4 separate regions of the Homo sapiens genome follow, and regions 2, 3 and 4 are each linked to region 1. Evidence: fine-mapped expression QTL. A gene starts in region 1. Each other region holds a variant in brackets. All regions are shown on one strand. Distances are from middle to middle.

Region 1 (2,750 bases):
CACTGTAGCTTTATAGTTCTTTTCACATTCTGATGAAGTTTCTCTCATTTTTTTGTTTTAAGAATTTTCTGTGCATTCTAGTGTGATCTCAATCCTCTCCCTTCCCAGTTTTAAACCGTGAGACTTCTGTCCAGCAAGACTTTTTCACGCTCCAAGGCAGGCAAGCTTCCCTCCTTCACAGGGACCCGAGAACTCAGCTTTCAGAGCTGTTCCTGCGGAAGCCTCATGTCCTCCACGTGTGCTCCAGAGGCAGAGGGAGACCAACTGGAGCCCCTTCCCTTTCTCATTCCCAGCTGTGATGACAGCAGAAACTGCAAAATTTGAGCTAGGACAACACAACAACCAAGAGAGACATTGTTCTACATCTCATTATGCATATTTCAAACATGTGTCTCTATATACTTCTTACAGAGGTGGTGGTAATCTGTGCATGCCCTACTGAATTTTCACAATTATATTACTGTACTTGTTTTGTCCCCTTATTTCCATCTGTGAATCCAGGTGCACTGCAGATATTAGTCTGCTTTCTGAGGGTAGGGATGACAAATAAAATATACAATACCCAGGGAATTTGGAAGTTCAGATATATAACAAGTTTTTAGTTCAAGTATGTTCCAAATATTTCATGACATGGCACCCAGTACTACTTTAAAAACAAACAAGCAAACAAACAAACTTACACTCCTACTTTAATGAACAAAAATTGTCTAATAAAGAGATCACACCCACAGGATTACAGGCACCCCCCCCCCCGCCCCCCGCCACACACACACACATTTACCTTAGAGCAGAGTCCAAGGCCCACCAACACACATGATCCTCAGTCCTTTTAATAAAGAACATTCAACCCTCCTCAGAGTGGCCTTGGGCAGTTGCCTCCAAGTGTCCTTGCAGATGTGAAAAGGAAGTTGGTTCACAGCCCTAATCAGAGGCTTCCTGGCAGGACAAGGTCCTGGCATCAGCATTAGCTGCTGCAACTCTGAAGGGCAGGGTGTGAGCCTGCTGTGGGACTGCCCCCTCCTAGGGCTGGGCCTGCTGACTCCAGGGGTCAGCTTTCCCCATATCTGCACTCCCTCTGCTGGAGGCCTGAACTCTCCATGCCCCTGGCTCTCTTCTGCAGAGGGCCTGCTCTCAGCTGCCACAGAGGGTGCTGCAGAACTGGCCTGAGCAGAGAGGCAGGAGCTCCTCTGCAGGTCCTCCCAGGCACCACCCTTCTGGAAGGAAGGCGTGGGAGTCCCCTAAGACACATCCTCAGTCACTTCTCCCTGCTTGTGACTCAGGAAGACCAGCCTTCCCCACTGCCTTCTGTGCTAGGGATCACTTCCTTGTTGAGTGGGACCTGAGTTTTGAGAGGATCTTCTGCTCCTGTTCATCTGGGCCCTTTCTTTCAAGACCCCAGAGACGAAGGCATGTGGTGGGCCCTAGCCCTGCTTCTAGCTTTCCTGTCTCTTGGTAAGTGTGCTGCCTACAGAGAGGCTCACAGGTTGGGTTTTGTTTTGGATTTTTCTTCTTTAGCAAGGGACGCCATACTAAGGAATACCTCATTATATTTTATGTTGTTCCCATTGCAGCCAGTCAGATATCTACTAACTTGGAAGCGAAAATAAAGTCAGGCACCAGGCAGATGGGGTCATCTGCTGTAATCACCTGTGATCTTCCTGTAGAAAATGCCTTCTACATCCACTGGTACCTACGCCAGGAGGGGAAGGCCCCACAGCATCTTCTGTACTATGACATCTGCAACTCCAGGGATATGTTGGAATCAGGAGTCAGTCAGGAAAGCATGATACTTATGGAAGTAGAAGGATAAGCTGGAAATTTATACCTCCAAAACTAAATGAAAATGCCTCTGGGGTCTATTACTGTGCCACCTAGGACAGGCAGAGTGATTCAGACCTGCTCTACACCACACTGAATATCTGTCTTGTGGCTGCTTCTGGTACACAAGAGAGAGCCGTCCCCTCTCATTTCCTGCCCTGAATTTACTGTATTCTGTACAAAGAGAAACAGCTTAACTCCTGATCTCCCCCCTAATATTACACTCTCCTGTCAGCAGCTGTACCCTGTTCCCCACCCTCCCCCAGGACTTTCCTGAAGACTAAGCTGCCATCTCAGCTAAGCCTCAGCTAAGCAGCCTGGCTGAGAGCAAGGTTTTCTCAGCTCTCCTAGGACATGGGGGAGGCCCACTCACTCTGTTTCTTAGGGTCCAGCTGTGAAGCGAGATATTTTGGACAGCAAATGGGAAGGGTATTTATACTGAATCATGTATCCAATCATGGTCCAGAGATCGCAGCTGAGAGTGCTGCTTACTCCTTATGTCTATAACAATATAGGCAATATTATAAATACCACTAAAACACTAGGCCTAGATATGCAGTTAAACACTCTCTCCCTCTGCCCTCCCTTTTATTCTCTCTCCTTTCTTACTTCCTTGCTTGCTTTTATTATTTTTTCTTCCCTCCCTCCCTCCCTCCCTCTCTCCCTCCCTTCCTTCCTTCCTTTTTTCATTTCTTCCTTCCTTGCTTTTCTCTCTCTTTCTTTCCTTTTTGGGTACATAATCCGAATATTTTTTCAACAAAATCATTTGAAATAATTTTTCTTTACATGTTCATGCCAACATTGATATAGCTAGTTTATTTGTTCAGTTTTCATTTTAAAATTTTAGACATTTGTTGTATTATTTTGTTTTGTTTCATATTTGTTTTGCATATGTAAACTATTTACATGGAACTAAAGTCATAATTTTAACG
Region 2 (2,500 bases), 50 kb before region 1:
TTGTGGAGGTGTGGTCCCTCCAGCGGCCACAGCAGTGTGGGGCTGGAATGATAATCACAAGCGAAGGACTAGTGGATGATCTCCAAACCCCGGCTGGATCTTCATCAGCAAGCATGGTTCAGGCACTGGGGGCCTCCTGGGACTGGGGGAGGGGAGGAAGGGGCTCACAGGAGGTGAACTGCCAACCGCAAGAGTTAGGGTTCCGTGGGACAAGAACCAGGCTGGCCTGCGGGGCTGGGCGTGGTGGCTCACGCCTGTAATCCCAGCACTTTGGGAGGCCGAGGTGGGCGGATCACGAGGTCAGGAGATCTAGACCATCTTGGCTCACACGGTGAAACCCCGTCTCTACTAAAAATATAAAAATTAGCTGGGCGTGGTGGCAGGTGTCTGTAGTCCCAGCTACTCGGGAGGCTGAGGCAGGAGAATGGCGTCAACCCGGGAGGCAGAGTTTGCAGTGGGCTGAGATCGCGTCATTGCACTCCAGCCTGGGCGACAGAGCAAGACTCTGTCTCAAAAAAAAAAAAAAAAAAAAAAAAAAAGAACCAGGCCGGCCTGCATTGACTCCTCCTGCAATCCCTCTCAGGATGGCCTCCCTCACCCTTCAAGACTCTGTCTCCCATCCCCTATCCCTCCTCCCAATTCCCACCGAAACCTCATGCTTACCAAACTGCCTGGCTATTCAAGGATCCAGAAATTAATTCCACTAAGGGTTTAGGCCTCAGGAGGAACAGAAGGAGGCTGTGTGGCACAGCGGAAGGCCCAGACCTGAGTCTGGCTAGTGGGGAAGTATGGAAGTGGCAGCCCCAGCTTTGGGCTGGGGGCTAAGGCAGGTTGTGCAGGACAAGGAGGTTCTGTTTTCCAGGCCCTGCCGGGCATCGCCACGGTTTTTCTTCCCCCAGGAGAAGGTCATTCCTTCGGTGGTCATAGAGCCTGCCTCCAACCATGAAGAGGAAGGAGAAAACGAAATAACTATAGGTGCAGAGCCCAAGGAGACCACCGAGGACGC[G/A]GCTCCTCCGGGCCCCACCAGCGAGACACCGGAGCTGGCTACGGAGCAGAAGCCTATCCAGGACCCTCAGCCCACGCCTTCTGCACCAGCCATGGGGGCTGCTGACCAGCTAGCATCTGCAAGGGAGGCCTCTCAGGAATTGCCTCCTGGCTTTCTCTACAAGGTATTCTTATTTTTTAAGTCTCATTTATCCTTTTTTTGCTTTAAGGCCCTTTTGCTCAAGCCTTTGGTTTTCCAGTTTTTACTTTTACTTTTTGCAATTATTATTTCTGTGAACTGCTTTCCCTTCACCACAACATCACTTGGACAAGCCAGGACTACAGTAATAGATTTTCATGTTTTAACAAAGAATAATTAAAGGGAAGTTCACCACAGGGCAAACAGTATGCCCCTGGGTAATGAATGGGAGAGTCTTTTCCAGCCCTCCCTCCTCTCTACTCCCCCAGGTGCCTGTGAATCTGTGGAGCCTGGCTCAGACCAGGCCTTGGAATCACCAAGAGCTCCTGACTCGGCTATATCCCCTGGGGGTCGGGCAGCAATCCTTCAGTCAACTCTGGCACCTTGTAGGGTGCATGACACAGAGTAGGGAGCCCATAAATATTTGGTAAATTAATGGATTCATGTATGAATGAACTTGCACCAAAAGGCAGAAAAAAAAGGCGGCTAAGTTAATGGGAAGAAGGTTTTGCTCAGACAGGCTACTTAGAGCCTTCATAAACCAAAGGGTTCTTACCAAAAAAACTTAGTAAATACCTAAAAACACTGGCTTAACCTAAGTGTTTCCTGTCTCAGATGTTTCCTGATAGAATCTGAAAAGGAATTTTAAGTTTTTAAATTTGATTTTACATTTAAAAATCAGCTCTTTTTCTTCTAAAGTGTAAAATGTTGTATCATTCTCTCTCTCTCTCTCTCTCTCTCTCTCTCTCTCTCTCTCTCTCTCTCTCTCTCTGTCTTTGTCTCTCTCCATTAGAAAGTAACTGCTACCTTGCTACCTCTTGTGGGGACAGGGGTGGCTATAATGGATTTATGAATAAATTAATTTGGAGGAAAAGCTAAACCTCTAGATAAGGGGTTGTTTCCTGCCAGGTTCCGTTTTAACTGGAGCACAAGCAGTCCAAGAAGCCTTGTGCCAAGCACGGCTGGAGCTTGCTGGGCCCATTCTGGCCTCCTCACTAACTGTAGAATAACCTAAGGCACCCCATATAGACCCTCTCTCTGGGTATCAGTTTTCCAATCAGAAAAATTAATTTAGGGATAACATAATCCATTTCCAGCTCTGACAGCTTGTGATTCTATGAATATGCTCAATGGCAAAATACACACTTTAAAAGCCAATGTTTACTCTCAGGGGTGGAGTTGAGGGAAAGGTGGGAAAAATAAAATCAGCCATGACAGTAGAGTGATTCAGACTGGGTGACAGACGCATAGGGGTTCATTATGTTATTTCTTCTGCTTTAAAATATTTTTCTATAATAAAATTTTAAGGAAATCTTT
Region 3 (2,750 bases), 34 kb before region 1:
AAAAAAGAAAAAGGAAAAGAAAAACAAAAAAAAATTATACAGCTGTACAAAATATTTTCTTTATATCCTTATTCTATAAACTGTTTTCTATTTTTAACATTTTCACTTTTAAAACATTTTTGCTAAAAATCAAGACACAGCCACACATTAGCCTAGGCCTACAGGGTCGAGATCTTCAATATCACTGTAGTCCAGCTCCACATCTTGTACCCACGGAGGGTCATCAGGGCAGTAACACACATGGAGCTGTCATCTCCTAGGACAACAGTGCCTTCTTCTGGAATTCCTACTGAAGGGCCTGCCTGAGGCTGTTTTACAGTTAACTTTTTTTTTTTTTACAAGTAGAAGTTGTACACTCTAAAATAATGATTAAAAAGTATAATATAGTAATTACATAAACCAGTAACATGGTCATTTATTATAATTTTCAAGTATGTACTGTGCGTAGCTGGATGTGCTAGACTTTTATACAACTGGCAGTACAGTAGGTTTGTGTACACCAGGGTCACCACAAATGAGAGTCGTGTTGTGATGTTATGATGGCTACGATGTCACTAGATGACAGGAATTTTTCTGCACCTCTATCATCTCATGGGACTGTGGTACATGCGGCCCATCGTTACTGAAATGTGATGAAGTGCATGACTCTAGTCTTCACAGATACGGAGGCTCTAAGGACAGATATCAAATACATTAGACTGGGCACCTATGGGGGAACAGGAATAGGGAATGAAGGAGAGAAAAGAGTAAAATAAAAAACAAACATGCAAAACTGTACATAACTGGCATGGATTAATGGTGATAATGTACCAGGCACTGAGAAATATGACAGAAAAATATGAGAATTAAGGTTTTAAAAAACAAGCAAAAAACAAGAAGATACCAAGCACTGATTTCAGGATAACTCCCTGAAGCCTCATATTTAAGCTTTGAGACTTAATTTTGGACAATCCAAAACAGTGGTTCCAATGAGTAAATCACAATTAGGGTAATCCAAAGAGCTCTCTTTCTTCAGTTGTCTGTGGAAAATGTGACATTTTCCTTCAGGTAAAATCCGTGTACACTGGCTGCCAGCACAGAGCCATCTGGCTGGCCTTGGCCGCTGGGCATTGGTCTTGGCTTTGTCCCACCCCCGCAGCAGCCTTCTTCTCCAGGATGGTCAAAGCTCACCCAGAGCAAAGATGCTCTGCACTCAGGAACACTGGATTCAGGCATTGATCCAAGCCCCCGT[G/C]CAGCTCTGTGATATAAAAATGAGAGGAGGGAGGAGAACTTGTCTTTTAGCCAAAACATTTTCTAAACCACAGGCAGTTACCATGTCCTTCAGAGTCAAGGCACATTAGGTACAAGGATTATTGATAATAATCCTTGTAATTTTTAAGACCACAAAACATTGAAACATTGAAAATTATAAATAGATAACATCAAAGCATGGTGGGAATTCTATTTTGTATGCATGTTTAGACTAAGGATCTTTTCTTTTTTTCCAGACTGGGCCAGAACCAAGTACCTGTAAGAATCAGCACAGTTCAGCCTTTTGTATCAATTGCAGTTGTGTCCATGTATGTGTGTGTGCATTCTTGGGTACATGTGCACACACCTGCATGTTACCTACACAAACCTCCGTGTTCCCATCCTTCTTAGGTGGGATTTTTGAACACTGCATTTACACTGGCCTGAAATAAGTTTGTTAAAGTCATCGGCCTCATGTAGTGGCCAGGCTGGGCTGCAAAGCCATTGGCTATCCAAACATTCAGAAGACCTTTAGGAATCAATGTTTTTGTTAAGGAGTCTATATAGAATAGGCTTTTCCTAGAGCAATGTTGAGTCAAGAGGAAGCAAATAACATGCATTATTGTTGGATCAAAATAAAAACTAGAAGCTTCCATTTTTCATTTCACCACACCTATTCCTTCAATATCCAGTTTATCAATTCAATTCAGAATCACAATTAGAACTAGAAGAGACCAAAAACATCACCCACTCCTCTGATTTTGAGGCGGGGGAAATGACAGCCCTGCAAGAAGGAGTCTCTTGCCTAAAACTATCAAGCACATAAGGTGTGCAGTTGGAACCTGCCTTGCATTTGGGGACCTTTCCATTCGTTATACGAAGTCTTTGCCATTCGTTGGGGTCTAATATTGGGGTAATATAACATGTATGGTATACCTCGAATGGCCAGGAGGGGGTGCTACAGGTTTGTACAAATAACTAAATGCAGTCAAAACACTACTTCTTTTAAAGCATGAAGCTGGGAGTTGAAATCAAATCGGAAATATAACATTTTGTATCAAAATGCAGCAGCTTCATGAAGACAGAAATTAATCCCTGAATCATAAACAGCCAAGCAGTTCCCTTATGGTACAGGCTCTGGAGACTTGTCTGTTTGGTTCAAATTCTTGGTGTGCTGTTTATTAGCTAGGTGACCTCGAGGAGTTATTTAACCTCTCTGTAAGCTTCAATTTCATCTGAAAAATGGGGATAAGTAACACCTATTTTCTGCTTGCAAGAAAAGAATAAATATATACAATGTTTGACACTCAAAGGGTATTTGCTATCATTTAATGGATCAAGAATTTCTGCTATGACTTTAAAAATTAGTCTTTTAATAAAAGGCCATTAACTATTTACTTAACAGTGCTAGAGGAAATTCCTATGACTTTTTGAGGTCCACCATAATTAACTGAATGAATACTATTCAACAGTATCTTAGGTTGTTTTCTTACTGGCAGCTGAGAGTGACCCTTGAGTTT
Region 4 (2,750 bases), 49 kb after region 1:
TAATGCTATCCTTCCCCACACCCTGCCCGCCAATAGGCCCCAGTGTGTGTTGTTTCTCTCCCTGTGTCCATGTGTTCTCATCATTAAGCTCCCACTTATAAATGCGGACATGCAGTGTTTGGCTTTCTGTTCCTGCATTAGTTTGCTGAGGATAATGGCTTTCAGCTCATCCGTTTTCCTGTGAAGGACATGATCTCCTTCCATTTTATGGCTGCATAGTACTCCATGGTATATATGTACCATAATTTCTTTATCCAATCTATCATTGATGGGCATTTGGGTTAATACCATGTCTTTGCTACCGTGAATAGTGCTGCAATGAACAATACCAAGCTATTCTATTTCCAACCATAAATATGTTGAGAAAAATTCAAAGGAAAAGTAAATGATGGGTGCCTTTTGTTGTCAATTTTTATATCTCATTTTACTCAGATTTTCCTTAACGGATGACTGCTACTCACCTGAGTTCTTATGTTTACCAGCTCTGTGTTTTTGAATGAGTCACTCAAACTCTGTTTGCCGTTGTCCTCATTTGACACATGGAGATAATCATAAAACTTACTGCACAGGACTGTTGAGAGGATCAAGTAAAATAATATAAGAAAACATCTAGACAAGTAGCAAGTTGTAAATGGATATTAGATGCTTGTCAAGTTTCTTACTGCAGTTCTGAATTAACAGCTAATTACAGAAAGATAGTCATTGGGACAGAACACTGCAGGTTTATCTTCACATTTTCAAAGCCATATTTCTGCAATATGGTACTGCTGGGGAATGGGAGAGTGGGCAAGAGAACATCCCTGCCCCACCCCTAGAGGTACACATTCATACTAGGTATTTCTTTCCAGATAGTTAACCCACTTACCCGATCTGCCCAGCACTCATGGGATGCAGGAAACCCTGGAACTGCTCATAACTGTAGCAGCTCATGAAGAACCCTAAGGAACCACCTCATCTAGTACTTCTGAGAGACCTCAACAGCCCCGCCTTCTGCCACTGACTTGAGACCTCCAGTGAACAGGGTTACCTTCTCCCTGGGGAACCAGACTGGCAGAAAGCATGCCACTGGTAGTAGCTGTTATCTTCTTCTCCCTCTGGGTTTGTGAGTTGCCCCCTAATCATTTCAGTCTACAGAAGAGATTGAAGTCATTCTGTATTATTACCTCTTCACGTATCGTTGGCTTATGGGAATTTCTCTTCACTTGCAATTGCACTTGGGCAGTTGGAACAACCT[G/A]AAATATCTATTTCCAGACCAGCAAATAAGAGTGCCCACATATCTTGGAAGGCATCCATCCAAGGCTTTAGCAGTAAAATCATACACTGGTACTGGCAGAAACCAAACAAAGGCTTAGAATATTTATTACATGTCTTCTTGACAATCTCTGCTCAAGATTGCTCAGGTGGGAAGACTAAGAAACTTGAGGTAAGTAAAAATGCTCACACTTCCACTTCCACTTTGAAAATAAAGTTCTTAGAGAAAGAAGATGAGGTGGTGTACCACTGTGCCTGCTGGATTAGGCACCACAGTGTTAGAGTTGTCAAGATAACCTACACAGAAACTATCTCCGAGTCTGTGCCTGTCCACATCCTTCTCCATGTGGGCAACCACAGCGGTTTGCTCAGCTGGGTGCCCAGCCGGAGCCTGCCCTCCCTGCAGCTCTTCTGGAATGTTGCAGGAAGACATCTTAGATTCTGCTCCCTTGGTGTGCAGAATCACATTGGTGATTCATGGTGTCCAAACGGGAAAAGTTTTCTTGTTCCCTCTCAGGGCGTGCGATAAGGATGTGGCTCCCTTCTTGGTGCCCCTCTCCTCAAACCTCTAGGGGGAGCATGCACACGTGCAGGTTGTGGGGCTCCGACCCCACAGCAGTGTCTAGGGGTGAATGCTTATAACTCCTGAGGCCCCAGTGGGCCTGTGTTACAAGGTGTCCTTTTAGTTTGGCTGTCCATAGGTGACTTGCTTTAGCCAGCTCAATTAGACCCCCTGCCTTATTGCAAGGACGGAGGGCTTTCTGTATCCCTGGGTTTCTTGCCTTGGTGTACTGAAAGAATTGGATAACATGTGGGCTTGGAGAATGAGTGCAAGTTTTTTATTTTTGTTTTTGTTTTGAGACGGAGTCTCGCTTTGTCGCCTGGGCTGGAGTGCAGTGGCGCAATCTCGGCTCACGCAAGCTCCGCCTCCCGGGTTCACGCCATTCTCCTGGGCAGTCTCCCGAGTAGCTGGGACTACAGGCGCCCCCCACCATGCCTGGCTAATTTTTTGTATTTTTAGTAGAGACGGGGTTTCACCGTGTTAGCCAGGATTGTCTCGAACTCCTGACCTCGTGATCTGCCCACCTCGGCCTCCCAAAGTGCTGGGATTACAGGTGTGAGCCACCGCGCCTGGCCGAGTGCAAGGTTTTATTGAGTGGAAGTAGCTCTTAGCAGATGGGGGAGCCAGACGGGAGATGGAGTGGGAAGGTGGTTTTCCCCTGGAGTTGACTGCTCAGCGGCCAGGCTTTCCTCCAACCACCCCGCCAAACTCTGCTTTGTTCTGCCAGTCGATGGCCTGCAGCCCGCCAGTCTCGCCAAACTCTGCTTTGTTCTGCCAGTCGATGGCCTGCAGCCCGCCAGTCTCTGTAGGTGTGCTTTTCCACATTAGTGTTCCTCTCGATGTCCAGCCACTTGTGTGTGTGCCCACTAGGGTCTCAGGGGTTTTATAGGCACAAGATGGAGGCGTGGCGGGCCAGGGTGGTCTTGGGAAATGCAAC

Evidence for each region. PIP is the estimated chance that this variant, and not a neighbour inherited with it, causes the effect.
Region 2: its variant is the best candidate, but not a certain one, in a credible set for the expression of TRG-AS1 in adrenal gland (GTEx, PIP 0.90).
Region 3: its variant is the best candidate, but not a certain one, in a credible set for the expression of TRG-AS1 in whole blood (TOPMed, PIP 0.67).
Region 4: its variant is the best candidate, but not a certain one, in a credible set for the expression of TRG-AS1 in whole blood (TOPMed, PIP 0.78).

Annotation. Positions count from the first base shown.
Region 1 is chr7:38,339,831-38,342,580 of GRCh38, reverse strand. It overlaps TRG-AS1 (T cell receptor gamma locus antisense RNA 1), which reads right to left and starts at 1,160. Exons shown (of 4, transcript NR_040085.2): 1 at 782-1,160. It also overlaps TRG and the pseudogene TRGV6.
Region 2 is chr7:38,390,417-38,392,916 of GRCh38, reverse strand. It overlaps AMPH (amphiphysin), which reads left to right. Exons shown (of 21, transcript NM_001635.4): 19 at 900-1,169. Among named protein-coding and RNA genes, the nearest start is that of TRG-AS1, 50 kb to the right of the region's middle. The variant G/A (reference allele first, on the strand shown) is at 1,007.
Region 3 is chr7:38,374,044-38,376,793 of GRCh38, reverse strand. TRG-AS1 (T cell receptor gamma locus antisense RNA 1) reads right to left here. Exons shown (of 4, transcript NR_040085.2): 4 at 1-1,237. Among named protein-coding and RNA genes, the nearest start is that of TRG-AS1, 34 kb to the right of the region's middle. RefSeq lists a silencer at 2,012-2,306. The variant G/C (reference allele first, on the strand shown) is at 1,232.
Region 4 is chr7:38,290,388-38,293,137 of GRCh38, reverse strand. It overlaps TRG and the pseudogene TRGV11. Among named protein-coding and RNA genes, the nearest start is that of TARP, 18 kb to the right of the region's middle. The variant G/A (reference allele first, on the strand shown) is at 1,235.